Homo sapiens: one gene and its partners. The protein of the gene in region 1 purifies or fractionates together with the protein of each later gene. This does not show direct contact. Each region holds a gene or a part of one and is shown on either strand. Other genes may lie near its edges.

Region 1 (5,441 bases):
CATGACAAGCATGCCCACTGTCACTACTGTTATTCAACAAAGTACTGGAAGTCCTATCTAGAGCAATCAGACAACAGAAAGATATAAAGGGCACCCAAATTGGAAAGGAAGAAGTCAAATTATCCCTGTTTGCAGATGATGCAATTTTATATTTGGAAAAACCTAAAGACTCCACAAGAAAAGTATTATTAATAGAAGTGATAAACAAATTCAGTAAAGTTACATGATACAAAATCAACATACAAAAATCAGTAGCATTTCCATATGCCAACAGTGAACAATGTGAAAAAGAAATTTTAAAAGTAACTCCATTTACAACAGCCACACATAAAATTGAATAACTAGGTAATAACCAAAGAAGTGAAAGATCTCTGTAATGAAAACTATAAAACACTGATCAAAGAAATTGAAGAGGACACCAAAAAAATGGAAAAATATTCCATGTTCATGGATTGAAAGAATCAATATTGTTAAAATGTCAATACTGCTATCAAAGCAATCTACAGATTCAAGGCAATCCCTATCAAAATGGCAATGACATGCTTCACAGAAATAGAAAAAACCATCCTAAGATTTATATGGAACCACAAAAGACCCAGAATAGCCAAAGCTATCTTGAGCAAAAAGAACAAAACTGGAGGAATCACATTACCTGACTTCAATTATACTACAGAGCTATAGTAACCAAAACAGCATGGGACTGGAATAAAAACAGACACACAGACCAATGGACAGAACAGAGAATCCAGAAACAAATCCACACACCTACAGTTAACTCATTTTCCACAAAGATGCCAAGAACACACACTGGGGAAAAGACAGTCTCTTCAATAGATGGTGCTGGGAAAACTGGATATGCAAATGCAGAAGAAAAAAACCAGACCCATATCACTTGCCATACACAAAAATCAAATCAGCCTGGGCAAGGTGGCTCACGCCTGTAATCCCAGCACTTTGGGAGGCCAAGGCGAGCAGATCACTTGAGGTCAGGAGTTCAAGACCAGTCTGGCCAACATGGTGAAACCCCATCTCTACTAAAAATACAAAAATTAGCCAGGCATGGTGGCACATGCCTGTAGTCCCAGCTACTTGGGTGGCTGAGGCACAAGAACTGCTTGAACCTGGGAGGCTGAGGTTGCAGTGAGCTGGTATCAAGCCACTGCACTCCAGCCTGGGCAACAGAGCAAGACCCTGTCTAAAAAAAAAAATCAAATCAAAATGGATTAAAGACTTAAATCTAAGACCTTAAACTGTGAAACTACTAGAAGAAAATATTGGGGAAAATCTCCAGGACATTGGTCTGGGCAAGAATTTCTTGAGCAGTACCCCACAAGCACAGGCAACCAAAGCAAAAATAAACAAATGGGATCACATCAAGTAAAAAGTTTCTGCACAGCAAAGGATACAATCAACAAAGTGAAGAGACAACCCAAAGAATGGGAGAAAACATTTGCAAACTACCTATCTGACAAGAGATTTATAACCAGAATATATAAAGAGCTCAAGCAACTCTAGGAAAAAAATCAAATAATCCCATTAAAAAATGAGCAAAAGATCTGAATAGACATTTCTCAATAGAAGACATACAAATGGCAAATAGTCATTCGAAAAGGTGCTCAACATTGCTGATCATCGAAGAAATGCATATCAAAACTACAATGAGCTATCATTTCACCCCAGTTAAAATGGCTTATATCCAAAAGACAGACAGTAACAAATACTGGTGGGGATGTGCAGAGAAGGGAACCTTCTCAAACTGTTGATGGGAACGTAAATTAGTACAACCACTACAGAGAACAATTTGGACGTTCCTCAAAACACTAAAAATTGAGCTACCATATGATCCAGCAATCCCACTGCTGGGTATATAGCCAAAAGAAAGGAAATCAGTATATTGAAGAGATATCTGCATTCCTATGTTTGTTGCAGCACTGTTTACAATAGCTAAGATTTGGAAGCAACCTAAGTGTTCGTTAACAGATGAATGAATAAAGAAAATGTGGTACATACATACAATGAAGTACTATTTGGCCATAAAAAAGAATGAGATCTATGGCCAGGCACGATGGCTCACATCTGTAATCCCAGCACTTTGGGAGGCCAAGAGAGGTGGATTGCTTGAGGTTAGGAGTTCAAGACCATCCTGGCCAAAATGGCAAAACCCTGTCTCTATTAAAAATACAAAAATTAGCCAGGTGTGGTGGCACATGCCTATAATCCCAGCTACTTGGGAGGTTGAGGCACAAGAATCACTTGAACCCAGGAGGTGGAGGTTGCAGTGAGCCGAGATTGCACCACTGCCAGCCTGGGCAATAGAGCAAGGCTCTGTCTCAAAAAAAAAAAAAGCGGGGCAGCAGGGGTGGAGGGGTTTGAATTTAAAAGGACAGTAAAGAGGAAACAGAAAAAGGGAGTTGGAAAGTACTATGCTCAGAAATCAAATTCTAATTAGATTACAGCTTATGCCACTAGGAAAGAAAATACTTAGTTATTTATTTATTCCTATTTATTTATTTATTTATTTAGAGATAGGGTCTCACTCTGTTGCCCAGGCTGGAGTGCAGTGGCACGATCACAGCTCAATGCAGCCTTGACTTCCTGGGCTCAAGAGATCCTCCCACCTCAGCCTCCTGAGTACCTGGGACTATAGGCACATGCCACCAAGCCTGACTACTTTTTGTATTTTTAGTAGAGACAGGTTTCACCATGTTGCCCAGGCTGGTCTTGAGCTCCTGGGCTCAGCAATCCGCCCACCTCGGCCTCCCAAAGCACTGGGATTATAGGCGTGAGTCACTGCACCTCCCAGAAACGACTTTTAAAACATACATGCATTTTTAAAACAAAGATAACTTTGGCTGCCATACATAAGGACCAGAGACAGAAAAGGACTGGAAGAAGGAAGGTTAACAGGAAGCTATTACTGCAGTACACTAAAGAAGGAATGGTGGCAGACTACGGTAATATTAACAATAGGAGGAATGGAGAGAAATAGATGTACATTACCTTTTTGCTTCAGGCATTTTTATTAAGAAAAATTCTCTTCCGATGGCTCAAGTAAAACAAGCATTGATATCTTGTGCAAAATGGGCATTTAATAAATTTATCAATGAACTGGAGGAAATGAAAGCTCAATATGAACATGAAGATAAAAGACAGTTCCTAACTACTCTAAGTAAACCTTCAACAAGGTATATTGCTCCAAATAAAATTCCACACAGCTGTTGGCAATCATTTAGGAACTATGGTGAGCAGGAGAGGTTGCCAGAAGACTAAAGACAGAAAAATGTAGTACTCGTGTTCAAAAAAAGAGAAATGGGATCCTGCCAACTATTGATCACTGAAGTTAGATGTAATTTTAGACATGATTCTAGCATCATTACTAAGAGAAGTTTGTGAACACTTAGAAAAAGTAGTAATCAGTGCTCCCTTAGTAGCACATATACTAAACGGGAACAAATCAGAGATTAGCATGGCCCCTGTGCAATGATGACACACAAATTCTTAAAGCATTCCACATTTTTACTTGAATTAAAAAATCCTTTTCTCATACAAAAATCAGCCGGGTATGGTGGCAAGCGCCTGCAGACCCAGCAACTCGGGAGGCTGGAGAAGGAGAATTGCTTGAATCCAGGAGGCCACTGCACTCCAGCCTGGGTGACAGAGAGAGACTCTGTCTCTAAATAAATAAATAAATAAATAAATAATCCTTTTCCGAAAAAAAAGACAAAAAAGTAGTAATTAACATATGCTACTGGAATATAGTATAGTTTCACTAAGGACAAGTAATGATAGGGTAAAGAAAACGAAGCATATAAAATCTGGGTTTTAGTAAGGCAACTGTCAAAGTTCCTCACATATTCCTTATGAGAACTTGGAAACATATGAGGTAGATGATGATTAAAATTAGCTGAATTTCTAATTGGGTGACCAACCTGAACCAAAGAATTAATAATAAAATTTTTTATCACCTTTAAGAGAGGTCTTTAGCAGGTAAAGAACTCTGACCTCAGCCCTGCCTAGACAGCATTTTAGTGAAAAATTTGCATGAAAGCAATGCCAAAATTATCAAACTTGTATGTTTATCAAATGCATAGATTTGATATTTATTGGATGACCAAATCAGGATTTTTTTAATGTCAACAGACTAGAAGCAATCTTACAAAATAAAAATATAGATACATGTAAAGTCCTACCAAAAAATATTCTATTAAAGAATTGAGAGAGTATGACTTTAAGAACAGAGAGAGCATGAACAAAATAATTCAACAATTTTAGTTGACAAGGAAACCAATAGTAAAATAGGTATCATACATACATAGTACTGGGATGCCACAACCCATTCTAAATGACTTATATATATATATTAATTATCTTCAGAATTGTGTAAGATAGACACTATTATTAACCCCATATTAGAGATGAGGAGACTTAGGCCCAGAGTGTTTACATAACTTACTCAGGGTTACCCAGCTGATAAACTGCAGAGCTAGGATCTAAACACAGGAAGGTTAGCCCCAAAGTTAATCTTCTTAACTAGTAAATTATTATAAAGTAACAGTGTAATGTGGTTGCCAAAGAAGCAAGTCTACTCTTAAAGTACATGCTTTAAAATTAGAGAGGTAACTTAGTCTTCTATACTAGTTAATACCTAATTTGGGGTACCATGCTTGTCAGAAGAATGTGGATGAACTAAACAAATCCACAAGTGGGCTATGAGTTCTGTGAGGAGATGTGAATGAAAACAATGACACAAAAGTCACTAGCAGAGGTTAAAGACTGAGAATATTTTCTAACACTCAGTGGAATATAAGTATCTTCAAATAGTTGAAAACCCACAATACAGAAGAGACAGTGAGGACACAATTTCTAGTTCAGTGAAAGAAATAATTTTATAAAAATTAGAGTTGTCCAAACATGGCGAGGTGTGTGCCTATAACCCCAGCTACTTGGGAGGGTGAGGTGGGAGGATCACTTGAGCCCAGGAGTTCCAGACAAGCCTGAGCAACATAGAGAAACCCTGTCTCAAAAAAAAAAAAAAAAAGAATTGATCAAATATCTTTGCCTCAGAAACTATGACACTATAAATAGTCTCTCCAAAAAATATACAAATATGCATAATTTTGCATAATATTTCCAAGAGTTCACAAGCCTACTTTCATATCTATTCATGCCGCACACCTAGAGTCATGTATCCCAGATTAAAACGGAAAGGATTTAAGTATGAAGAGGTGAGTGTATTTGATTCTCTTTAAAATCCACTACAATTTAAAATTCTATGATCTAAAAGAACTCTCAATCTATGCCTTCTAGTTTCTTCTGAGATCCATTATAACACATATTGCAATAAGAGTTTAAAAGATGATGACAAGGAAGTACATCCCACTTCATCAGTTATATTGAGGGCACACGGCTCAGACAGTTAAGAATTTTAGCTGCCAGAGAAA
Region 2 (5,252 bases), on another chromosome or scaffold:
GCAGCCCTGAGGGAGCTCGAAATATTAAACTCTTCCTGGGCACAGGACACCAGCAGCTCAAGTTCCTCCTCCTCCCCTAGAAGGACCCGGAGGCAGGAGCCGGGCCCCAGGCAGAGAACCACCGCAGCCAGGCACAGGACGAGACGGCCTCTCAGGAGGCAGCCGAGGAGGCCACACAGGGCTGCCAGGACAGGGCCAAGGGCACACACTCTTGCCATCATGCTCTCTCCCACAGCGGCCACACGGCCCACACAGCCAGGTGTACCCTCAGGTCCCTTCTCACCACGAATACCCCCGCCTCCCACAGCTGGGGGGCCACGCTTTGTGCCCAAACCCCCAGCTTCCCCTCTCAGCACAGCTCACACAGAGCCCTGCTGGGCAACTCAGCTGCCTGCTTGCACCCCTACCCCAGGCCCCGGCACCCCAGCCGTCTGCATGGATGAGCGGGGGAGGGGGAGGCCACCTGGGCCAGACAAAACAAGGAGGAAAGCACCCGCTCCTGTCCCTTAACTGCCCTGCCTGTGGCTAGGCCCACCTGGCCCTCCAACGCTCATCCCACAGGAGGCCAGGCAGGGAGAGGCTGGGACAGACCTCACAGGCACCCACCCACTGCCAGCCCACTTGGGGAGGGGGTCACCCGGCCCTCCCAGACTCATGCTTTGGGACAGATACCCCAGGTGGAGGTGCTCAAGGCAGGACAGGGCTGGTGGCTAGAGCTCTCCCACAGCCCCGAAGTCCAGCAGCAAATGGGGTTTCCAGTCGCCCTGGATATGTGGAGCTAACCCAGATGACCCCGAAGCCCTCCAGGCCCAGCCCCCACGGCTGAGAACACAGAAGGGCTGGCTGCCAGGGCCGCGGGATTAGTGCCCTCACTCGTGCACATGACCGGTCCCAGCAGGGGGGCCGCGGGGGCTGGGTGCACATGGGCCCTGAGCCTGGTACAGCCTGGCCAGGCGGTGCGGGGCGGGGGGTGGACAGGCAGCCCCTGTCTGCCCTCAGCTGGGGCCCGGGGCTCTGGTCACGTCCTGCCTCCCCAGGTCTCCTCAGCTGGGCTGGTGCCTGCTGACTCGCACAGCCCTCCCCTCCCACTGTGGGGACAGGACACCCCGTGACTCATACGGTGGGCAGCCTGAAGACCCCGAGACGCAGGATGGGCAGAGGGTGTGGCCAGGGTCTGGGACCGCACGCACCTGGCCGCAGCCTATCAGGGACTTTGCCTGGCACAGCCAACAGAGCAGGCAGGTGGGTCCCAGCTCAGCCCAGCCTCCCAGCAGAGCCTCCCGGCTTCTCAGGACCCTTCTGTTCTCGCTCCACCCACCCTGCCTGTGCACACCTAGCTTTGGTTACCAAAGGGCCTGGCCTCCACCTGGGACAAAGGGCCAAGCAGCCAGCCCCAACCTGCCCAGATGGAGGTGTGAGCTGAGCCCAGCCCCGCCTCTCCCTCCTCCCTGCACACAGCTACCTGCCTCCCATCCCCCACGCAGCCCCAGCCAAGGCTCCCACGGGTGGCCGGACCCTAGACCAGGCTGCACGAGTGCAATGCCCAGAGCAGGCTCCCGGGAAGCTGGGTGCTCCCTGAGTCAAGTGTGGCCCCAGCGCCAGGCACGGCCTCCACCCATGAGAAAGCTGAGGGAGGAGCGTCCAGGCCGCTCCTGGGGTTCCCGGCTTCAGAAGGACCACCTAGGCGGCACCTATGGGAAGAGCTGGCGGAGAGACGAGAAGGAAAGGAAAACTGACAAGAAGGGACTCAGCCAACAACAGTGAGAGCCTCTGGCCACCCAGGATCTGCCTGCACAGGGGTAGAGGCAGGGAGGAGCCCAGCCTGGGGCTTGGTGCTGGCCAGGAGGTGGTGTCAGTAGGAAGGGCAGATGTCAGGGTGGCTCTTGGGTCTAAGGATCAGAGAGCGAGGCCTTGGGAGTGGAGGCGGAAGTTGCACAGCAGGTGAGGGCGGACGGCCCTGGGTGTCCAGGACTGAGCCCTGGGGACACTGACACGCTCCAGCTGGGCAGAGAGCCAAGAGGGGAGGAGGGGAGTAGGGCAGAGGGGACGGGAAGGGGCCGCCAGACAGGTAGGAGCCAGGCCAGGTGGTGCTCCACGAAGAGGAAAAGCTACAGCGCCGAGTCTCAAGGGAGGCAGGTGTGAGGATGAGAATGGGTGTCCCACCCTCCAGGAAAGCAGCCCGGGCGTGGCTGCAGCACACAGCAGTCTGCTCCAAGCTCAGCCCTGCAAGACGGGGCACCTGCCGCTTCTGCCAATGGATAACTTAAGTGGGCCTGTGCCTGCCAGGCAGGCCCCCACCCCGGCACACAGGCCAGCAGCTCCCCACTGCCCAGAGCAGGGCTGCACCCCTCGGAGGCGGGCAAGGGTATCATACCCTGTGCAGGCACAGCCAGCCCTGGGGCAGGCCCCTCACCGACTCCCACCACCCAGACAACTCCACTGAAGAGCTGCCCTTCACCTGTACCCCAGGAAAAGCAGCAGCACCGCCAGCCGCTGAGGTGCACAGTGAGCCGTTGGCCCACAGTCAGGTCCTGCTAGACTCCGGGCCCTGCAATCCCTGCACTCCACCCCCACGCCCGGGGGTCACAGCCAGTGGTCCCAACCAAAGGCTGGGGTCAGCACGGTGGCTCACGCCTGTAATCCCAGCACTTTGGGAGGCTAAGGCAGGCGGATCATCTGAGGTCAGGAGTTCGAGACCAACCTGGCCAATATGGTAAAACCTCGTCTCTACTAAAAATACGATAATTAGCTGGGCATGGTGGCAGGCGCCTGTAATCCCAGCTACTTGAGAGGCTGAGGCAGGAGAATCGCTTGAACCCTGGGAGATGAAGTTTGCCCTGAGCCGGGATCCTGCCACTACCCTCCAGCCTGGGCGACAGAGCAAGACTCTGTCTCAAAAAACAAAAAATAAAAAAAGGCTGGCCAGGGTGGTCAGACAAGGCCAGGCACAGGACCCGCAGGGGCACCTCGCACCCCCACCAGTGAGTGCTCCTGGCCCAGGGGCCACAGAGTACATGGGACAGCCCTGCCCCACAGCCCACCGTGCCGAGGCCAGCAAGCCATTCTGAAAGGCAGGGCAGCCCCACGCCTCTGTCCCCTCCTGATGGACATTCTGGCTCTTCCCAGGCAGGGCAGCTGGCCTGTACCCAGGCGGGAAGTCACAGCCAGCAGGTCATGCTGCTCTGGCAGGGCCCTGCCCGGGCCACCTGGCCATGCCAGGTATCGTCCATCTGGACCCCCACCCCTTCAGGCTGGCCCGAGCTCCTCCCTCCTGCTGGTCCAGGGCCTGTTTCCCAGGCTCAGCCTCTCCCCCACTGCATCTTCCTGCTCCTGTTGGCCCTCCGGCCCCCACCCTGCCCTTCTGACCCTAACCCAGCCGCAAATGACCCCCACAGTTCTGTCCCTTCTTTGCTTTTTTCTTTTTGAGACAGAGTCTCACTCTGTCGCCCAGGCTGGAGTGCAATGGCGCGATCTCGGCTCACTGCAAGCTCCGCCTCCCGGGTTCAAGCAATTCTCCTGCCTCAGTCTCCTGAATAGCTGGGATTATAGGCGCCCGCCACCACGCCCAGCTAATTTTTTTATATCTTCTTAGTAGAGACGGGGTTTCACCACCTTGGCAAGGCTTGTCTTGAACTCCTGACCTCGTGATCCACCCGCCTCGGCCTCCCAAAGTGCTGGGATTACAAGGTGTGAGCCACCGCGCCCAGCCCAGTTCTGTCCCTTCTGAGGGCAAGATGGCCAGACTCTAGGCAGTGGCCTCAAGTCCCAGGAAGAAGCCAGGCTCCCAGGGATGGCCACACAGGTTAAGGGGAGGGGTTCTAGAAACAGAAACCTGAACTCCGTACTCGCCCCACAAGCCCCATGACCCCGTCTGACTCCCAAGCTGAGGCGCAGTTTCTCTCTACAAAGGGGGAGCTGTCCCCACTGCCACCTCTGGGGCAAGCCCAGGAGGTGCCCACCTCACACAGCAGCCAGGGCCAAAGGTACAGACGCAGGGGAGGGAGAGGCAGACAGGAGCTGGAGGAGAGAGGCTGTGGCTATCAGACTGACCCCACCTTGATGGGCTGGGGTGATGCTCGGGCGAGGGTCGGGGAGATAGACCCACGTGGCTCCAGGAGTGGGAGGGGCCCTGGACCCAGCCCCAAGCCCCCACTGGAAGCACCTCAGGAGGGTTAGCACGGATGCCTGGGCCGGCAGATAGAGCCGGCAGGGGCACCAACGCCCTGGTTCCAGGAGGGGAGTATGGCACAGGGAGAGGCGCAATGCCAAGGCCAATCCCGGGCAGGAAGCAAACAGAGGGAGGCAGCAGCCTATCTGCTGAGGGAGCCTGCAAGGTCCCATCCCCAGCCTGGGGAAACTGAGGCTGGAGGACAGCCCGCCTCAGGGGTGAGCCTAGCCAGCAATGGCTCTGGGGCAGTGCCTGGATAGGAAGACCCAAGGGAGGCGCCCCAGGCGCCCCCCCTCAGTCCCCAGGAAAGGTACACCTGCTTCCTGACAGGTCACCGCAGACCGGGAAGTCACATGGAGCTGCCCTTGGAATTTGCCCCAGGGAACAAATACAGGTGCAGGAATTACCAGAAAGAATCTGAAGATTTTTTTTCCTGTGCCCAGAGGATTCCAGGCCACTGGCCAAGAGGGAGACTCCCCTGCCTGGCTGGCTCAGAGCCTCCGAAGGCCCCTTCTCCCCAGCAAGCTTCCCAGGCCCAGAACAGGCATACACGGCACTCCTGCCCAGCTCCCAACCAGTGTGCCTTCTGGGGAGCTGATGGCCCTCTCCCAACTGGCTGGTGGGCTGCACCCCAAGGCTGACTGTGATGCGAGGATCCAGCCAACCCCGATCATCTGGCCCTTCCCATTCATAGCGTGGCGCCTGGCGCCCATGCAGCGGGCCTCCAGGAGACCATGTGAGGCCACCCCTCAAAGCCAAGCCCAGGGAGGAACCCACAAGCCCAGGTCTGCTTCTTTCAGCTGGACTCACAAAGGGACAGACCCGCCCAGCTAATTCCAGATGAGCCACAACAACTGGCAAGGGACATAGCACTGTCTGCCCTGTCGCTCTCCAGCAGCCTGGCAAGGCACACAGCAGGCCAGCTGTCCCCACGGCCCAAGTCAGGGGGCTCCACTGGGGCCCTGGACCCAGCACGGCCCACCCAGCCCCAGCTCGCCTCAAGTCCATGTAGAAACCATCCTTTGCCCAGGCCAAGCGTCCTGGGATCAGGGCAGGTGCTGCCCCCACAGTTCTGTGAGCTGTC
Region 3 (4,567 bases), on another chromosome or scaffold:
TGTATATATTTATTTGTTTGGTAGTTATGTCTTCCCAGGAGAAAGTAAGATCCATGAGGGCAAGATTTTTGTGTTTTGTTATTTTGCTGTTTACTTAGTATCTGTATTACTAAGATTCTCGGTAATAATCAATAAATATCTGTTAAATAAACAAATGAATCTAATTTGTAAATTCTACTACTGCTAACTAATTTAGTCACTTGTGCCATTAGTCCACAAGATGACGCCCCAACCTCCAACCTCCCACCCCAACCCCTGCCTCAGAAGTGAAAGATACTTAAGCAGTTCAAGTTACCAATGGCTAACATGACAATTACAGGGATATAATCTTAAAGGCAGGAAGAAATGTAATTTTAAAAACTCCAGTCATAAGACATACAGAAAAAAACCTATATATTGAAAACTTTTTGGTTATTTGTTATTAAAGCATTATAAGAATACTCATTAAGGAGAGAGGAAAAGACATGACAAGCTGATTGTTTTGGGGGACAGGTTAAGAGGTTGGAGGGAAGTGATTTTTTGTTTTTTCTTATCCCGAACTGTGGTAACTTTATATTTGAGCTGATGAAAAAAAATTCTGGGCCATCCACTGTACTTTTTAAGAGTCCATTTGTTAGACAAAATATGAGGAAATATGGTCTATTTTATCAGCTTTTTTTTTGGTTTCTAAATGGCTATTTAAATACAGATAGCAGTACATACATGACAAACTGGAAGAGCAGGTTCTGCCACGCTGCCAAGTCACCTGTTACCTGATATCTCCTCTCAGAGGGCAGAACCAGCAATGCAGTGTGGCGTAACACAGCTGGAAACGTGCCCAAGCTGGGCCGCCAAGTGCAAGAAGTAGACTTCATGTTAAGAACTGTGAAGGTCAGGACAAATCACTACTTGACATATGCCACTCATATAATTTCAGAAATGAGTAGGAAAAAGAATCCCAGACAAAAGGGAATAGAAGTCAAGTCAAAGTGAAGGCACACTGACTTTTTATAGTTAACTTTTTCTTACAAGTTATATAAATCAAGCCAAGAAATGTAAAATATGATTGTGCACCCCAGTTTTATCTGTGCAGTTCAAATAGGTAGTTTTACTTTGATCAAGACTTCCACACTTGATTTCTGGCAAAAAAAAAAAAAAAAAAGGGAACACTCTTTTTCATGCGGTATATGCTATTTTCTTAAAACAATATATATTTCTCATTAACACTGTTTGCTTATAGGTGGTTATTCTATTTGCACAAATAGAACTGTATGGATAATGAATATAAACTGTTACCATAAATCTTCTAAATTATATGAATGATCATTACAAACAAATGTGCTTAGCACCTATTTTGTTGATAGCCCATTGCCTCTGAGAATCTGCCTTTTCCTAAGACAACTGTTTGGGTTACCTCTCCCGATTTCGTATTCTGGCCACCAAAATAAAAATTTTCAATAGTAACAAAATTAGGTGTCCTTTTAGGACGAGGGAAGTTGAGTGATGTATAAAAACATTCACCCAGAAACCAGGCTTCTGGGCCTAGAGTCCTTAAGTGACTAGTTAAAGTGATTGAAAGGTTCCAGTGTTTCCCATTGCAGGAAATTACTTAATCTCTTAGAGCCTTCTTTTCCTTCTTATAATATTAGAGCATTACATAATTATAAAAGTAACTATGGTTTCTAAATCCTTCCCTGCTCTAAAAATACATAATTCAAAGCTGCTAAAAATAAATACTTTTAAAATTGGCTGTGACATATGTGACATATACATATATAAACAGAGTTTCACTGTGACAAGGGGAGGGGCTATACAATGTTTTGTAGCAGAAATTTACAATGCATCGGTATCAAGATGCTTTTGTTCCTGAAAAAGTGTTTCAGGGTGGCATTCAACCTGAAGGCAAAGTTCTGGGAAGCCCCCAGGCACTTCAGTGGAAACACAGGGCAGTGTTTTGGGGGACCACATCACAGCTCAACTGGGGACCCAGCGGAACTTGTAACCCCCGTTGGCTGTTCTGATGGTGAAGGCATTGCCCTGGGGGAAGGCGAGGGTGCGGATGGTGCTGTGGCTGCGGATGCGGGTGCTGAAGGAGCCGCCCTCCTCCAGCTCACTGTGGCTCAGGTTCAACGCGCTCCGGCTGCAGTCTGTGCGCAGCCCCCGGAAGGCGCCATGCAGGTTCCCGGGCCTGGTGTCAGTATTCGCGGGCTCTGGCAGCAGTCGGGGCCGCTTGGGATCGCGGCTCTGAAGGGCTTCATCGCAGCGCTCGGAAATCTCCCTCAGGATGGCGTCCACTTCCGCGCAATCCTGCCCCGCAGCGCTGACCAACTCCTCCAGGCTCCTTTTGGCCTTCGCCTTGAGCAGGAAGGGCTCGGCCGCCGCCCCACAATCCCGGGACTGTGTGATCATCAGCTTCTACGAAAGACAGGGAAGAGCGCCGCCCTGGGGCCTGCCGGACCCTCCGGGTTCGGAGCGTGCAAAAGGTGACCTAGGCGCGCTACGCACCACGCACTCAGCGGTACTCTCCTCTCCCGGGCCCCCACGGGTCCCGATGCTGGGCGGGGATGCACTGAACTGTTCAGTTCCGACGTGCTGCAGTTCCCACACGCCCGCGCCCCACTTACATCCAGCACCGAGGCCAGGTGCCGGGTTCGGCTGGCGAGTTCCTTCAGCTGCACGTTCCGCTCCTTGAGCGAGGCGATCTCCTCCTGTTTCTGGGTCAATGTCACGTGCAGCTGCAGGAGGAGACCCAAACATTCAGGGGTAGGTACTGTGCTGGGTCTCGTCTGCATATCTGGCATGAATCAAACCCAGATCCTGACGTCTCATCAGGAACTGGGGACGCACAGGCATTTACGCTAGTGAGAATAATAATCAATTTACTTTTTTTTTAAAACAAAGCACTTGGACAAAATTTATCTCCATTAATCCTCGGTGTAGCGTGCTGATAAAGAGTACTGACTTGGGCAACAGGCAGATCTAGGTTCTGTCACCGAAGTTCAACAATCCTATGTCTTGATTTCCTTGTAAAACGGGGCTAGTAAGAGTATCTAGCTCAATGATTGTGAGCATTAAGTGGGAAGAAAAAGTATAAATTGGTAAGTCCAGGGCCAGACACATAGAAAGCCTTCAAAAAATATTGGCGTCCCTATTAAAAATCTGGCAGGCACTATGCAATATATGTATGTAACACAACTGCACTTGTACCTCTAAATCCCCCCAAATAAAACTATTTTTAAAAATAAATAAAATGGCCAGGTGCAGTGGCTCACGCCCATAATCTCAGCACTTTGGGGGTTGAGGCAGACGGATCACCCGAGGTCAGGAGTTCCAGACCAGCCTGGCCAACATGGTGAAACCCCGTCTCTACTAAAAATATAAAAATTGGCCAGGTATGGTGGCATGCGCTTGTAATCCCAGCTACTTGGGAGGCTGAGGCACGAGAATGGCTTGAGCCTGGGAGGCGGAGGTTGTAGTGAACCGAGATCATGCCACTGCACTCCAGCCTGGGCGACAGAGCGAGACTCCGTCTCAAAAAAAAAATGAATAAATAAATAAAAATTAATTAATAAAATAAAATAAAAATCAGGTGGGGTAGAATTATTCCCACTTAACCAATTTGGAAACAGGTGGAGCCACCGGAGCAATGGCAGCTACGTGAACCACCAGTCAGTCCACTGGTTCCGACTCACAGGACCTCATCTTCTCCCTTGCAAACCCCACTTCCACCCTCTATATCCTGTCCCTGCCCCAGGATTCCTGGTCGCCAGACCAGTGTCCCTACTTGATTATTCTCAACAAGCGCGTCTCCCAACGCTCTCTGGTTCTGGTCCGCCACCTCCTTCCAGTATTGCTCAGGCGGGGGCACGTCTGGAGGGCGCAGCGGTGGTGACTGCAGGGCCCGTGGGTCCAGTGGCGGGGAGAGGCAGGGCCCGAATGGTGATATGTCGCAAGGAGAGAAGGGGAAGTCTCCGCTGGCCAGGGTAGGCGACATCATAGAGGATGAGTCTGGAGAAGAGCAGGAGCTGGATTTGCAGCCTCAAATTCATGCCCAGCTAGTTACAGGAGCAAAATGCCACTCTGGGTGTAGGGTGTATGTAGAGATTTTTCTTTATTAAATTAAGCACCCTTACTCCTAAACGCCTGATTACGAGGCCCTTCCTGATAGCCTGTACATACACAGCAGGTATCCAACATATGCCTGTTAAGTTTACCTGAATTCAATCAAGAACACTTCCCTGGGCCTGCACGTCACACAGGCCTTCGATACCCTGCACACTCGTCACTCAACCTCCCCTGCCACACCACAGCATAGGGCTCCCTCTCCCAGAACTCACACCGATCCCAGATAAAGCGCTATGTAGATCCAGCGGTTCGACTTCTCCACGGGGGAGAGAAATGTCCTAAATATGGAAAAGGCTGACTCTTTGATGAGTTGCTGGAGAGTCGTTGACAGTTGGCTGGGTTTACCACCTTCACGACCACGAAATCTGAACTAGTCTGATTTGGGAGTGGGGGACACCCCCGCTGTTATTTAACTGCCAGGAGACTGCACTTGCCTGAAATGAGATCATCCACCGTGTCTCTG
Region 4 (5,441 bases), on another chromosome or scaffold:
CACTGCAACCTCTGCCTCCCAGGTTCAGGCGATTCTCCTACCTCAGCCTCCTGAGTAGCTGAGATTACAGGTGTGTGCCACCATGCCCAGCTAATTTTTTGTATTTTTAGTAGAGATGGGATTTTGCCATGTTGGCCAGGCTGGTCTCAAACTCCTGGCTTCAACTGATCTGCCTGCCTCAGTCTCCCAAAGTGCTGGCATTACAGGTATGAGCCATCACACCTGGCCACATGAGTTTCTAATAATGAGTTAAGAAAATCTCTTTTGCTGGCCGAGTGCGGTGGCTCACATCTGTAATCCCAGCACTTTGGGAGGCCAAGGCGGGCGGATCACTTGAGGTCAGGAGTTCAAGACCAGCTTGGCCAATAGGGTGAAACCGCATCTCTATTAAAAATACAAAATATAGCAGGTGTGGTGGCCTGCGCCTGTAATCCCAGCTATGTGGGTGGCTGAGACAAGAGAGTCGCTTGAACGCGAGATGCAGAGGTTGCAGTGAGCTGAGATCGTGCCATTCCATTCTGGCCTGGGTGACAACAGCGAGGCTCCGTCTCAAAAAAAAAAAAAAGAATGTCGAATTTCAAAAAATGTCTTTTGCATCTATTGAGATCTTAGCATTTTTCTTATTTACTGTTAAGGTAATAAATTAATAGATTTTCAAATGTTGAATCAAGTTTGCATTCCTAGACTGAAGAATACACTAAGATAGAGTTTAACACTGCTGGATTTGATATATTCTGTATGCTGTTGCATACATAATCATATTTAGGTAAAAACAGGAACAAATTGAATTGGATAACCACTGGATGAATATCAGTATAACAAAAAGGAAACAAATTAAAAATTAACATAATTGTGCTTAAGTTGATTCCATGATCACTAGACAGTCAGAAAAAGTCAAAACCCAATGCCTTCTTGTGCCCACAATTAAAATACAATCTTTCCTTCTAGTCAGAATAAGGAAAAAGATGACCTGATGCAAAAGGATAACATTTTAGTCTTAAAAACTGTTCTGATAGCTTCTGAGATCTATTCTGCCATGTGTTCCTCCTCCAAAAAGTCTATGGTCTTTTTCCCTTAGAATGCTTCATCTCTTGTCTTAAAGACAGACTACAGAGCAAATATCCAAGAGTTGGAGGAAAAATCAGTTTGTCATCAACATAAGTAATGATTTCCTTAATAATAATTTTAGAAACTTTTTTAGAGCTATTATCCAGAGGAAAGGGAATGGACCTAAACAAGAGAGAAAAATCTGGCACAAATCTATAGGGGCTTCAGGATCACTATTCCTTTAAATTAATGGTATATTTCGGAAAAGAATAGAAGAATATAATAAAGAGAAGGTATCTGGACAATAGAGGGCGTAGAGCTTCCAGATATCCATAGTCTCATTATGGTTTAGGATATAGAAATCAGGATTCCTCATCATCATGATTTTGTTAATACAGAAAAAGACTTCAGAGGGCCCTGAAGCCTAGTTCTAGTTCTTCACTTTGTATAGCATAATTCAAAACCTAATCAACTATACATTCCATTCACCTTGAGTATCTGTGGCACCCAGAAAGTGGTTGGTACACAGCAGTATCCACAGGTAACAGGAATTCTGAATTGGGTTTAGTTATATGTAGTAGCTTTGTCATGGTTTTACTCTTATAGAGTCACTTTCCACTTTGGGTGCAATCAACTACAGTAAGTACCTCAAAAAAGACAGCTTCCTGGGGATGAACAATAAACTCTTGAGAGTACATAGAAAGCACATTTACAGCTAAATATGTTTCCATCATACAGAGACAAAGGAAATTTGTATTGCTGTAACATACCTCTAAAAGCCAGTCTAGAAGTATGGACCTCATCTGTGGTTCCAAGTCAGAATGCAGAACTTCAAAATGTTTGTCATGAACATATCTGCTCTCCTTTTTTAACATGTTTAGCCAGACTTCTTTTGAACATCCCCAGCTATGGAAAGAGAGGAAAAAAACCATATATATATATATATATTTTTTTTTTTTTTTTTTTGAGACAGAGTCTCGCTCTGTGGCCCAGGCTAGAGTGCAGCGGCACAATCTTGGCTCACTGTAATCTCCACCTCCTGGGTTCAAGCGATTCTTGTGCCTCAGCCTCCCAAGTAGCTGGGAGTTACAGGTGCCTGCCACCAAGCCTGGCTAGTTTTTGTATTTTTAGTAGAGATGGGGTTTCACCATGTTGGCTGGGCTAGTCTCGAACTCCTGGCCTCAAGTGATCGACCTGCCTCAGCCTCTCAAAGTGCTGGGATTACAGGCGTGACCCACCATGCCCGGCTAAAAAACATAATTTAAATTGTGCAATCCATGTAATATACAAACTCTGTTTCACATAGATAAAATTCAACTTTCAGACATTGAAATGCAACTTTTAATTAGAACTTGGAAGAAGCTCTTAAAGTAAATAAGAAAAAAAACTTCTGCCTTAATTTTTGGAAACAATTTCCTTTGCATGAATAAATAGAAGCCTGAAGTAACACAGTGGGAACCTGGACTATGATCATCCAAACCTGCAGATTTCAAGGGAGTGCTTTCTAGTTCCACTTATTTATACTTTACAAAGGTTGCTGTTAAAAGATAACCACGTTGCTTTTCCCATAAGTGGTCTGAAGTAATCTGTGAAAATAGCTGGCTATTCACTTTACCTGGAAAACCCCACAAAATCATGCAAATCAAGAGGTTCAAATCTTTGTGTTCACTGTAAGAACACTCGTGAAACTGCCCAGGCTATCAAGGGTATGCATATATGAAAAACCACAAAGTGGCCGGCACAGTGGCTCACACCTGTAATCCCTGCACTTTGGGAGGCCAAGGTGGGTGGATCACTTAAGGTCAGGAGTTCGAGACCAGCCTGGCCAACATGGTGAAACCCCGTCTCCACTAAAAATACAAAAAATTAGCTGGGCGTGGTGGCATGCTTGTAATCCCAGCTACTCAGGAGGCTGAGGCAGGAGAATCACTTGCACCCAGGAGGTGGAGGTTGCAGTGAGCCGAGATCGTGCCACTGCACTCCAGCCTGGGCAACAACAGCAAACCTCTGTCTCCAAAAAAAAAAAAAAAAAAAAACACCATGAAGTATTTTTAAAATGTCACTTTACAGAAACAGCATGTGCCATTCTGACATTACAATGGTGGAGTTGGTAGGTGTACCCAGGCCAAGCAGTGGGACTGGACACAAGGTTGGTGGCCCAAAAAGAGTGCTGAATTTTTGCTGCACATGCTTAAAAATGCAGAGAGTAATGCTGAACTTAAGAGTTTAGATGTAGATTCTCTGGTCATTGAGCATCTCCAAGTGAACAAAGCACCTACGATGTGCCAACGGACCTACAGAGCTCATGGTCGGATTAACTCACACGTGATCTCTCCCTGCCACATCGAAATGATCTTTAGTGAAAAGGAACAAATTGTTCCTAAACCAGAAGAGGCGGTTGCCCAGAAGAAAAAGATATCCCAGAAGAAACTGAAGAAACAAAAACTTATGGCACAGGAGTAAATTCAGCACTAAAATAAATGCAATTAAAAGTGAAAAAAAATGTTTTCTCAAGAGCAATACAAAAAAGTTAAACACATAAGGCATGTGATCACAGTCAAGAGAAGTCTCAATCACCTCTAAATAGATCATCTACAGCAGGATCACCTATGGGGTGGGTAAGGTGGGACAGAATGCAGGGAAAGGGGGATTGGTGAGTTTAAGTGTCTGATTCCATTAAATTGCTTATTAAGGCCAATCATAAATTAATACAGTACATGTTTTGTATAAGCTGTACCTCTTAGTTACACTCATGGACTAGAAAAAAGAATTAAGTATAGACCTTATTAAGTTTGGTAAGAAATAAATAGGGTTGATACATCAATTGGAAAAGCTTCCTTTGAGTTGAAGCTGCAAGAAACACGAATAAAAATTTTAAAGGAAAAAGCTGTACATGTAAAAATGTTTCTATCTTAACAAAAAACTAATTCAGTCCTGTTAAGTCTTTATAGTACTCAGCAAGCAAATGAAAATAATTTTATAGAATCAGTGTTTTAAATACCCATATCATTTGCAACCAGCACTACTCTCAGATAAAATGACATATGATTAAATATTAGTAAACAATTTTTACACGTTTTTCTACTTTATGAAAGCAAAAGACAAAATAGTGCCATGTATTAAATCAGCACAACTTTATATCTTTGAAATAAAATTACTGAAATTTTTCTTACCTTAAATCAGGCAAAGGTGAAGGATTAATAAAAAGATTTTTAAATCTGTAATTTGTAAATCTGGAGAAATCACTTGTTCCTATTTCTTTGTGAGGTGTTTCAATGATAATGCAAGGACTGATCCCCCCAGATAATACAGGTGGCCAACAATTCTGTCATAAAAAAAAAGAAAAATATCAATTTGTGCAAGGAAAACCTTAGTTTTTGTAATGGATCTTTCATAAATGAAAGCTAATATGTCTAAAGAATCATAATTTTAGCTAACATAGATGGCAATATAGCTAATTTGACATTCACATTTTATAAACAAGCCATATAGCTCATATTGATTTTTATAAAGAGTAATAGGATGTTTTAGACAACAAAATGCAATTCTGGTAATAGAAGACACCAGGTGTCGAAGAAGGACAGTAATAACAAAATGCATCTGCAGTCTAAAATACTAATCACTTTCAAGATCACAGAATCGTTCTCTGTATCTAGCAATAGTAGCAGGGACCTTTTTTTTTTTTTTTCAAATAAGCTCTTTTTAAAAAAAGTGTGCTCTGATACTTTTGAATATTTGAAAGCAAAACCTTAAAAATGGAATCGATTACTTAAACGATTCTTTTCCCAATAATGCTGGTTTCAAACGCAATCACTATCTCCAAAGTGCTGCTTTCTGTAAAACACATAGGAAGAAGAGGTACCAAAGGGCTGCGTGCCAGGCTGTCAGTGATCTCACATCCTATTTATGCCCAAGAAGCAGCTATTAGGACCGTCTACTAGAGTCTGCGAGGGAACAAAGAGCAGTATATTGGACAGATTAGGCGGGCCCTGGTGCACCAGGCAGTTCCAAGAGGGAGGGATTTACAAAAAGGAACCAGCTGCTTGAAGGCACTTATTCTGCAGCTGTAGTAGGATTCGGGCACATAGAAACCACCCAAAGATAGGCGCCTTCCTGCTGACCTCTAGGGGCATTAAAAGTAAAAGTGTCAGAGGAATCTATCGCAAAGCAATAAACACATAATTCTATTCTTATTCATCTATCCTCCATTTTTCCCCCAAACCCACCCAGCCCAGTTCTGCATTACCCTAATTTCATACTGATGTTTCTTGGTGACCTCCTCTCTTCTTTTTTTGACATCCTGGAAAATAGAAAAGACCATTGGTAAACTAAAGTCCCAGCATGGAATTTCGTTCCTCCCTCTTTCTCCTTAAATCACCTGGGTAGTTTTCCTC
Region 5 (5,441 bases), on another chromosome or scaffold:
AATCTGTACCTATCATTAATAGAAAAGCTTCAAAATATTCAGAGCATAATCTATCATTATTTCAATTTTTAAAGCACTTGCTATCAACGCCAATCCAAAGATCAATGGCTGTCCATCAAATACTTTTTGCCATGTGTTATATGTGAAAGACTGGGACGGTGGCATTGATAACTTTTATCAAAGAAAGGTAAATATATTTTGTATGCTTCTAAAAACTCAAACACTGATTACAAATGGAATTCCTTCTTGCAATTGTCATACAAGAGAGTTAACAGAAACAGAAAAACTGACTATCTCTCTTTAGGGTGACTTCAAAGTCCACAGAAAGACCTTAGAAGGTAAAGAATTTACCTTATTTTCTTCTAGAAATTTCAATTTGACAGAAACATCATTGCGCATTTTATCATATTTTTCCTTATGTGCTTGGAAGAGATGCTGTGACTGCTCAATCTTTGGCAGAGTGTTTGCGTCACGTGGTCCAAGATTCAGTTCTTCCAAATCAGTGCGATATGCATCATATTCAATCCTGGAAAGAAGAGAGTAAGTGAAGCATACTACAAGAACAGTAAAGTATGTTCAAAAAATGGGTTGGAAATACGTAATATTCAGTCTCATACTATACAATAAAATATATAAAATTCTCACACATATTCTACTTGACGCTTTTGAAATCATTATTTCTTTAAAAACAAAGAGCTATTTAAATAAGAACAAAGCTGCTGGTTAATCTCATTAACTATTTCTCTCAAAGCACAGTATTAACTGACAAGTAAAATTTCCAAAATCTAAAAACCAGTTAAAAAAAATAAATGTCAAAACAAGATCAAGGGTAGAATAAATACCCCAAGTGAATTGCTTAGTACTGATTAGGCAAAGCAGGTAAGGACAGCAGACTCTAGAATGGCATACTAAAACTAACGGAAGTGTAAATGGTTCTGAAAAAAGTCTGGGTTAGCAATGCACAACAAAAATGTAATGTGAGTAACACATGTAATTTAAAATTTTCTAGTAGTTACAATGAAATAATAATTAATTTCACCTGTTATCAATATATTTCATTTTACCCAATATATCTAAAATATTAATCATTGTGGCATGTAATCAATGTAACAGAATTATTCATAGGTACTTTACATTTGGAGAGTGGGTAGTGAGTCTTTGAAATCCACTGTGTATTTTACACTTCTATCCCATCTCAATTCAGACTAGCCACATTTCAAGTGCTCACCAGACATGTGTGGCTACTATACTTGACAACACAACTCTAGATGAATTTCTGTAACATCAGTATTCAGAATGTAACAACAGTATCTATTGTAGAGCACTTACCATCCTGTGTTCTGTAAGATGCCTCACTCTGATATTCTCCCCCCATCAACTCAAATAGTTACCCCACCACTGTCATCACTCCAAGATCCCATAACTCCTCATAATAGCTCTATCACAGTGCCTGTCTAAGTATAGTACTATCTTGCTTATTAAACAGTGATTTATCCAGCAGCTTCAACTATTCGGTACTCAGCAAAGAAGAAGCAAAGTGACCTCTAATTTAGTCAAGATCAGAATCACAAAGCTTATACCCTAAAACTAAAGCTCTTTATTTGGAGATATTAGGTGTATAATTCACATCTCCTATTCTGGGAATTAACAATACTTTAAATAACATAATCTATATTGTATATATGACTTGAGAAAGAATACATCAGTCCTTCACACTGATCCTAATTTATTCTTAACTCATACTGAATTTAGCAGTATGAGTTAAGATTTAATTTAATTGGCCTCTTTCAGGGTCAAAAGAGAACCATTCATTCATTCACTGATACACTGATTCATTCAACAATTCTCAAGTGAGCACTTTCCACGTTCCAGGCACTGTGTTAGAAAGTAGAGCTATAAAGATGAACAGATATGTTTATCCTCAAGAAGCTCGCATTCTAGAGGAAGAGAACCTTGTAAACAATTACAACAAAATGAGATAATAAGAACTACCATAAATGAGGGTAAGGTATAATGGAAATCAAGAGGAATAATTATTTAATTAGATATCTGAAAAGGTATCTCAGACAGAATTAAAATACTATAATTAAAATTTGAAGGATGGTAAAAGCTGGCTAGGTGAATTGGGATACAGAAATCAGTAGGATACTCTGATTCTGAAGAGAATAGCATGGACAAAGGCATAGATTTGTAAGATACAATGACACATTTGGGAATTCGGTATGTCAGAATCTGAAGCTGGAACATGACAATGGAAGGAATTAACATTAGACAGGCAGGCAGGATTGAAAGTAAGCAGCCCTACAGGCCATGTTAAAGTGTTTAAATTTAATCCAGTAGGAGAAGTAATGGGAAGCCACTGAAGAATGTTGATCTGACATAAAAATGACATGATTGTATCAGGATAGAAAGATGACCCTGGTGGTAGTGTAAGAGATGGAGGATAGAATAAATGATTAAAAAATCAGGAGCAAGGAAACCTATTAGAAAACGATGGACATATAAGAAATGAGTCACTGAATCAGGACAAAGGCATTGGAGCTAAGGAGACAAATACAAAAGATTTAGGAGGCAAGACTGACTTGGCAATAATAACTAGTTAGTTAAATCCATGGGTTCAGGAGCCAAGCTGAATGACCTCTCTGCCTTTTGGCTCTATTCTTGAGCTGGTTATTTCATCTCTTTGTGCTCCAGTTTTTCAATCTATAAATGTGAACAAAAATCTCCACAAAAACTTCATATAGATAAAACACACAGGATACCTGGTAATAACTGATACCTTTAGAATGCTTATTATTATGGCCAAATTAGAAGAGGGGTATCTAGAAGCAAGCACACTAAAAACAATAGGAAATAAAAGAGAAAAAAGTAGAACTAAATAAATAGTAATACATGGTGATTTAATCTAAGGACAAATATCCTTCAATAGCCTTGGAGCGCATTTCTAAACAACAGTGATTAACTCAAACATATTCAAAGTTATAATACTGACCTTATATTTCTTAATTTTACATTCAGAGTTTGTAGGTGGTACCAAAGTAAAACTTTCCATAATAGCTTCTCTAACAGTGCTCATTACCACCAAGAAGAGAAGCTCACTAAGTTTTCAAAAAGCAACTTCACTTCAAGGTTGCCCGTCTGAACTGAGTCCGTATCAACAAAGTTAGTGACGGTTACTTTATGGCTTATGTAAAACTTCTAGAGAACAGGTGTCCACATCTGAAAAGTCTCGACCACAATTGACTCCCTTGTTGGTGCTGCTGTGGAGAAGTGTTGAATGGGCTGTTACAAGATTTTCTATACATGAAGCACCAGAGGGCTAGGAAATACTTGTACACAATGCATAATAGGGAGGATTAAAAGGCCACTCGGGCATTTGCCTAAATTACCACTTTTTGCACTGATCAAATAGATGACCCTTGCCCTAAAAGTCAGTAAATTCTGGCTTTGACAGAGAAGGAAATTCAGCTACTGAAAAACTTTTAACCTTGGATTCTTTTTGACTATTATCCATCAGTAGGCAAGGTTTTAGTGTTAACAACTAGCCAATTCCACAGCTATTTCATAAACAACAGAAAAGTCAAACCCCAAGCTAAGCTTAATGAATAAGATCATACATTGTAATTTGAATAAAAAAGGATAAATTACGGGATGACATAAAACAAAAACAACATTACTGTTGTTGTTTTTTAAAGTACACACAGAGGCTGTGTAAGGGTTTCCCTTAAGAAACCAGCCACCAAGTACATGTAACTTGATTTATAATTTTGTTCAAAAGTTCCAAATGAACCTATATACTGTATTTTATAATCTGAGATCTTATACCACATTATACTTAGGGCACTAATACTCAGGTATAAGGCCTACTGATAAAATGTGAACCATAGAGAACCAATGGGTTCTTATTTTGCCTTTGAAATTGACTACAAGTGAGCAAACCATTTAACCTCTAGAGTGTTTTCTCCTCTACAAATTAATTATAAACTGTTTAGAAATAAAAGCTGAAGGGAAAGAGATTATTATTAACGAAAATATATTTCAGGATAGGTAGACAATTGCAAAGTAGAGAAACTAGATTCACAAAGTTCTCAACTAGGAGGTGGTGGGGGTATTTTTGGAAGAAAACAATATCCATCTTTAAAACCCATACATGTTAAAACAATCAGAAGGACTAGAAAATATGAATATTTAAAATGATTAGAGATAAAAGAAACAGTACCATTATGAACAAATTAGGACATTATGAACAAGGAACAGAAAAATTTAGAAAAGGATCAAGTAAAACTTATATAAATGAATTTTAAAATTCATATACATAATGAACCCTTTGAAAAATATAATTTCCATGAAAGGATTTACACTGAGACTGAAACACCAATTACTGAGAATGTTATTGAAGAGATTTCCACGGAAGGCTATCTTACTAACAGCTATCCTCACCCTTACCCCTCCATACAACCACAGCTGTTTGACCTTCATTTTCAAGTCAATAAGAATCTCATACTTTAATACTAAATGGAAAATGACAAAATAAACATGGTATGGGACAGAAGCATCTCTTCCTGTGAAAACATCAAAAATTAACTTTTCAAAATGATTTGGGCTTTTACTTAATTGAAGTGTAAGGAAATATATATTTAATAAGCACTCAATTGCAAAAATACTAGATGAGTTTGGAGTTTTTTACAGGTATTTCTCATACCATTAAACTAGGATAAGAGGCCAAAGAGTAAAGTTATCCTTCTAAAAGGTAAAGTTTATCTTCAACTATGCATAAAAAGTATAATGGAAAATAAGAATTTTGAGTGCTCAAAAGAAAAAAACCTCAAAAGGGACTAGAATGATACTTAAATAAAAGGGGTAGGGCATATGGGGAAAAAATTGGGCCTGGAATCAAAAGGTGAAAAAGGCTATTATAGGTCTGCCATATTTTAGACCCTTCAAAATATTTATTAATATATTTATTAATATATATTTTGTTCACCATTTAACAGGATAGTTATGAGACAGGGAAACTGTATATATACATATATATATGAATATGGATATACAAAAACCCATTAAAATAGGATGTATAAAAACACTGCATTATGAACAGTTATCAAAATACAAGTCAAATATTTAATTTATATAAAAGGTAAAATTTGAAAGGGTTTGAAGGCTTGTTATAATCTGGATAAATGGAAGATGACTGATATCCTAACAAACAAAAATCATGGAGGCAAAATGAGCTTATTTATTCAATAGAAACTGAAAGTATGGGTCTGGCTATTGTGGAAGCAGTGGTAATAAGGATGAAAGGTAAATTTAGGCGAGAGTATAGAGGACCATGTAATACCTACCTGGTAGAACATAGGGCCCTGTCCTCTTCTAAAGAAGCCAGAGCTGGGAGATCCTCCATTTCCCTACTCACTAGAAGGCAGGGTTTGGGCACATGACCA
Region 6 (5,441 bases), on another chromosome or scaffold:
GGCTCTGGCACCCCCCAGAGCCTAGATATTGAGTCCTGCCACCCTTAGTGCCCCCGCCGCCCCTTCATGGTATTGACAGTAATAAGGGCTGACACTGGTTTCACACTCACACTGTGCTCCAGGTGCACAGATGTCCTCACTCAGCCTTCACAACCTCCCTGCAAGGGAGCTACGATTATTGCCTCCCGGTTTCCTTAGAGGTGCCCCCTGACAGCTGGGCCAGGTCTGTACAGCCACTGCTGGGTTTCCAGGGCTCAGGACAGCTCCTGGCTCACAGCAGGCCTCCATAAATACTTGTTCAATAATTTAAAATCTGGAGGGTAGGGAGAAAGCCCCACGTATCCAGCAATACAGGATTAATCAAGTATAGTTTGACAGTATACTGGAGTCCAGTACAGTCATCTAAACTGACAAGGTAGATGTATATTTATTTAACATAGAAAACTGATCAGAAGATATTGCTGGGAGGTAAAAGCAAATGATCAAGTCATATCCATTGTGTGACCCAGTTTTTATAAAAAGTCATCTATGCTTATACTGTACTTATACTATGTATTGGTGAATTTTAAAAGTCTGGGAGGATAAACTCCAAGAATGTAAAAAGCAGTTCTCCTGAGCAGTAGATTCCAGTGCTTTTAATTTCTCTTTGAGTTTTATGTACTTTCCAATTTTTCTACAATGAACAGGTATTAAATGCATAATTTTTTTCATACACATTGACAAAATGTCACCTTTTTCTGATTACCAAATGATATTTTCTTTAAAGTGGAGTATTTTTGGGCCTGGTGTGGTGGCTCACGCCTGTAATCCCAGCACTTTGGAAGGCTGAGGCGGGTGGATCACCTAAGGTCAGGAGCTCAAGACCAGCCTGGCCAACATGGTGAAACCCCGTCTCTACTAAAAATACAAAAAAATTACCCGGGCATGCTGACAGGCGCCTGCAATTCCAGCTACTCGGGAGGCTGAGGCAAGAGAATCGCTTGAACCTGGGAAGCAGAGGTTGCACTGAGCCGAGATCACACCACCACACTCCAGCCTGGGCAACAGAGCAAGACTCCATCTCAAAAAATTAAAATAAAATAAAGTGGAAGATTTTTTTTTAAGTGCAATGCTGAAAACATCATCATAGCCAAGGGCAGGTGAATGGATTCTTGTCTCCTCTGGACTGACTTGGGGCCTCTGCATATCAAAAGAAGGCAGCCCCTTCCCAGGCCAGTGCCCTGGACAGCACCTGGGGCCTTACGGCATTCACAGTGAGGGCGGCTGCCATGCTTGGAACTCTCTGCCACCAGGGCTGGTGCAGTCAGCATGGTCTAGCTAATGTTCTGTTCTGTCGTTAATATATTATACAAATAATACATGTTTACTGTAGAAAACTTAGAAAACACAGATAAGCCAAAGGGGGAAGACTCACATGTAATCCCACTCTCTAAAGAAAACATGGTGTTGTCTGTCTAAACTTTATTTTGGAACAGTTTTAGATTGCTGAAAAACTGCAAAGAATCCAGAAAACTCCCATATACCTCACACCCACCGGGTTTCCTCCATTATTAATATTTTATGTTAGCATGGTACATTTATTACAATTAACGAACCAGACTGAGATATTATTAACTATAAAGTCCATTGATTTCCTTAGTGTTTACACTTTTTATTATATGGCGAGAACACTTAATATGGGTCCTACCCTTTTAACAGATTGTAAGTGTCCAACACTGACGGCGCTCTGCTGTACAGCCCATCTCTAGGATGTATTCGGCTGGCAGGACTCAAACTTTACACAGCAACGATCAGCAATGCCGTTTCCCCTATTCCCCAGCCCCTGACAACCACCCTTCTCCTCTCTGCTTCTGCTGAGTTTGACTATTTCAGATTCCTTCTATAGGTGGAATCATGCGGTATTTGTCCTGTCCCTGGCTTACTTCACTTAGCATTATTTCCTCAGAGTTTATTCATGTTGTCACACATTGCAGGATTTCCTTTTTTTTTCTTCTTCTTTTAGAGATGAGGTCTCACTGTGTTGCCCAGGCTGAAGTGCAGTGGCACAATCACGGCTCACTGCAGCCTCAACCTCCCAGGCTCAAGTGATCCTCCCACCTCAGCCTCTCAAGTAGCTGGGACTACAGGTGGGCAACACCATGTCTAGCCTATTTTTGTTATTTTTTTTTGTAGAGAAGGGGTCTCGCTATGTTGCCCAGGCTGGTCTCAAACTACTGGGCTCAAGCCATCCTCCCACCTTGGCCTCTCAAAGTGTTGGGATTACTGGCGTGAGCCACCACACCCGGCCAGGATTTTCTCCTTTTTAAAACCTGGATAATGCTGGTATCTACACACAACAAAATATGAGCCAGATTTCCTCAGTTTTTCCCCTGATATCCATTTTCTGTTCCAGGATCCCATCCAGGACTCACACACCACTGAGCTGTCATGTCTCTTTAGACCCTTCTTGGCTGTGACAGTTCAAACTTTTTAAAAAGACTTAGAGAACATAACTTTTAACAAAAATAGAACCATACATACATTCTATTTTAGAATCTCTTTTTTTTTAACTTAACAATGTATCCTGGGTGTCCTCCTATGTTGCCAAATTTACTCCTATTCTAAAGGACCAAGGCCAAGAACAGGCCTCCAGCCCCGGGCAGGGTGCCAGAACCACACATGGGTAAGTCCACGATGAATTCAATGCTGGAAACTGGCTCTTTTGGAGCCGTTGTACCTGAGGGAGGTTTTGTACCATAAATGCCCAATGTCAGCTGGGTGTGGTGGCTCACACCTATAATCCTGATACTTTGGGAAGCCAAGGTGGGAGAATTGCTTGAGCCCAGGAGTTTGCGATCAGCCTGGGTGACATGGTGAGACCTTGTCTCTACTAAAAATGTAAAAAAAAAAAAAAAGGAAAGAAAAAACAAAGGCCGGGTGCCGTGGCTCATACCTGTAATCCCAGCACTTTGGGAGGCTGAGGCAGGTGGATCACGAGGTCAGGCGATCAAGATCATCCTGGCTAACACGGTGAAACCCCGTCTCTACTAAAAATACAAAAAATTAGCTGGGCATGGTGGCGGGCGCCTGTAGTCCCAGCTACTCGGGAGGCTGAGGCAGGAGAATGGCGTGAACCTGGGAGGCGGAGCTTGCAGTGAGTCGAGATTGCGTCACTGCACTCCAGCCTGGGTGACAGAGCGAGACTCCGTCTCAAGAAAAAAAAAAAAAAAAAAAAAAGCCTAGTGTGGTGGTGCATACCTGTGGTCCCAGCTACTTGAGAGGCTGAGGTGGGAGGATCGCTTGAGCTCAGGAAATTGAGGCTGCAATGAACTGTGATCACACCACTGCACTCCAGCCTGGCTGACAGAGTGAGACCCTGTCTCTAAAAAAAACCCAGTCTCATGAAGAACCCTGAAAGGGTCCAGTGGGGTAAGGCTGGCAGCTGCCAGGATGGAAAGGGCCCTTTACTGCCTCCTGCCTCTGGGCCTTTGAACATGCTGTTCCCCTTTCTTGGACCACCTTCCCCACACACCTGGCAAAGTCCCACTCATTTCAGCTTAGATGCCACCTCCTCCAGGAAGCCTTCCCTCACATTCAAAGGAAGATTGTGGGGCTCATGAAGCTCCCAGAGCCTCCTCCTTCAGAACACCGCCACTATGTGCTGGAATTGCCCCTGAAGAGCCTATGAGCTGTGAAGGAGGGACCCTGTCCTCTCTATGCGTCCCCAGCCCCAGCAGAATGCCTGGGTACAGCAGGCGCCCTGTTAGTTTCTGCTGGATGGACACTGAAGAGCTGGGACAACACAGGGATCCAAGTCAAACTCAAGGAAGCCAGGCAATTTCGTGCCAGGAATCCAAACAGGAACCTATGGTAATTGCATACAGCAGTTTGGCTGGGATTAAGTGGCTTGGATCCTCTTGTTAGGCTCATAATAGAAGATATCAAATTACTGTAAAGAATACAGCAACACTCAAGAGAAGTCCAAATTTGATCCAAAAAATCATTCCAGATTTTTTTTTTTTTTTTTTTTAGTGTTCTTGGCTGAGCTCCAGGATGGGCTCTAGTTCCAGGACACACACCACTGGGATTTGACTTAGCTTTTCTCTGGCTCATTCTCCCACAGGCCTGGCCTGCTTGCATCAGAACAAGGATGTTTGCTGCCCTGGCACCTCCAAGTCGAGGTTTCCGTCCATCCTTCCTTTCTCCCTTTTTTTTTGAGATGGAGTCTTGCTCTGTTGCCAGGCTGGAGTGCAGTGGCGCGATCTCGGCTCACTGCAACCTCCGCCTCCCTGGTTCAAGCAATTCTTTTGCCTCAGCCTCCCGAGTAGCTGGAACTACAGGCACGTGCCACCATGCCCAGCTAATTTTTGTATTTTTAGTAGAGACGGGGTTTCACCATGTTGGCCAGGATGGTCTCGATCTCTTGACCTTGGGATCCACCCGCCTCGGCCTCCCACAGTGCTAGGATTACAGGTGTGAGCCACCGCACCCGGCTTTTTTTTTTTTTCTTTTTTTTTTTTTTGAGACAGAGTCTTGCCCTGTCACCCAGGCTGGAGTGCAGTGGCGCAATCTGGGCTCACTGCAAGCTCCGCCTTCCGGGTTCACGCTATTCTTCTGCCTCAGCCTCCCAAGTAGCTGGGACCACAGGCGCCTGCCACCACGCCCGGCTAATTTTTTGTATTTTTAGTAGAGACGGGGTTTCACCAAGTTAGACCAGGATGGTCTCGATCTCCTGACCTTGTGATCTGCCCGCCTTGACCTCCCAAAGTGCTGGGATTACAGGCGTGAGCCACGGCGCCCAGCCTGTTTTTTTTTTTTTTTTTTAAAGACAGAGTCTCATTCTGTCGCCCAGGCTGGAGTGCAGTGGTGTGATCTCAGCTCACCACAAGCTCCATCTCCTGGGTTCACGCCATTCTCCTGCCTCATCCTCCCGAGTAGCTGGGACTACAGGCACCCGCCACCACACCTGGCTAATTTTTTGTATTTTTATTAGAGACAGGATTTCACCGTGTTAGCTACGATGGTCTCAACCTCCTGACCTCGTGATCCACCTGCCTCAGCCTCCCAAAGTGCTGGGATTACAGGCGTGCGCCACCGTGCCCAGCCTCTCTCTCTTTTTTTAAGAGATGGGGTCTTGATCTGTCACCCAGTGCAGTGGTGTCCTTGTAGCTCACTGCAGCCTTGAATTCCTGGGCTCAAGCAATCCTCCTGCCTCAGCCTCCTGAGTAGCTGGGACTACAGGTGCATGCCACCACACCCAGTTAACACTATAATTTCAATTTCCTTTTTTTAGGAACTTTAGTTTATCTGACTGACCAACATGTCTTTCATACACTTTAAGTAATTCCTAGAATTTTAACAAATTAAAATCTTCACTGTTCCTTGAAAAGGCCAAATTATCTTAAAACATTAAAAATAAGATTCCTAACATGTACAATTTCTTCAATATAAAAAATTAACAA

What was found.
Region 2: the proteins of TFDP2 (region 1) and TPRN purify together in Homo sapiens (affinity purification with mass spectrometry; one large-scale study listed by BioGRID and IntAct). This does not show direct contact.
Region 3: the proteins of TFDP2 (region 1) and MCIDAS purify together in Homo sapiens (affinity purification with mass spectrometry; one large-scale study listed by BioGRID and IntAct). This does not show direct contact.
Region 4: the proteins of TFDP2 (region 1) and CCNE2 purify together in Homo sapiens (affinity purification with mass spectrometry; one large-scale study listed by BioGRID and IntAct). This does not show direct contact.
Region 5: the proteins of TFDP2 (region 1) and ARFIP1 purify together in Homo sapiens (affinity purification with mass spectrometry; one large-scale study listed by BioGRID and IntAct). This does not show direct contact.
Region 6: the proteins of TFDP2 (region 1) and EPHX1 purify together in Homo sapiens (affinity purification with mass spectrometry; one large-scale study listed by BioGRID and IntAct). This does not show direct contact.

The regions. Positions count from the first base shown.
Region 1 is NC_000003.12:142,142,038-142,147,478, forward strand, and holds part of TFDP2 (transcription factor Dp-2), read right to left. Parts: intron 1-5,441. UniProt on the Homo sapiens protein: Can stimulate E2F-dependent transcription.
Region 2 is NC_000009.12:137,193,693-137,198,944, forward strand, and holds part of TPRN (taperin), read right to left. Parts: intron 1-5,252. UniProt on the Homo sapiens protein: Essential for hearing. Required for maintenance of stereocilia on both inner and outer hair cells. Necessary for the integrity of the stereociliary rootlet.
Region 3 is NC_000005.10:55,218,413-55,222,979, forward strand, and holds the end of MCIDAS (multicilin), read right to left. Parts: coding exon 4,539-4,567; intron 3,988-4,538; coding exon 3,764-3,987; intron 2,715-3,763; coding exon 2,604-2,714; intron 2,395-2,603; coding exon 1,954-2,394; 3' UTR 1,152-1,953; downstream 1-1,151. UniProt on the Homo sapiens protein: Transcription regulator specifically required for multiciliate cell differentiation. Acts in a multiprotein complex containing E2F4 and E2F5 that binds and activates genes required for centriole biogenesis.
Region 4 is NC_000008.11:94,888,598-94,894,038, forward strand, and holds part of CCNE2 (G1/S-specific cyclin-E2), read right to left. Parts: coding exon 5,426-5,441; intron 5,348-5,425; coding exon 5,294-5,347; intron 4,373-5,293; coding exon 4,221-4,372; intron 1,954-4,220; coding exon 1,818-1,953; intron 1-1,817. UniProt on the Homo sapiens protein: Essential for the control of the cell cycle at the late G1 and early S phase.
Region 5 is NC_000004.12:152,883,218-152,888,658, reverse strand, and holds part of ARFIP1 (arfaptin-1), read right to left. Parts: intron 527-5,441; coding exon 352-526; intron 1-351. UniProt on the Homo sapiens protein: Plays a role in controlling biogenesis of secretory granules at the trans-Golgi network. Mechanistically, binds ARF-GTP at the neck of a growing secretory granule precursor and forms a protective scaffold.
Region 6 is NC_000001.11:225,833,158-225,838,598, reverse strand, and holds part of EPHX1 (epoxide hydrolase 1), read right to left. Parts: intron 1-5,441. UniProt on the Homo sapiens protein: Biotransformation enzyme that catalyzes the hydrolysis of arene and aliphatic epoxides to less reactive and more water soluble dihydrodiols by the trans addition of water.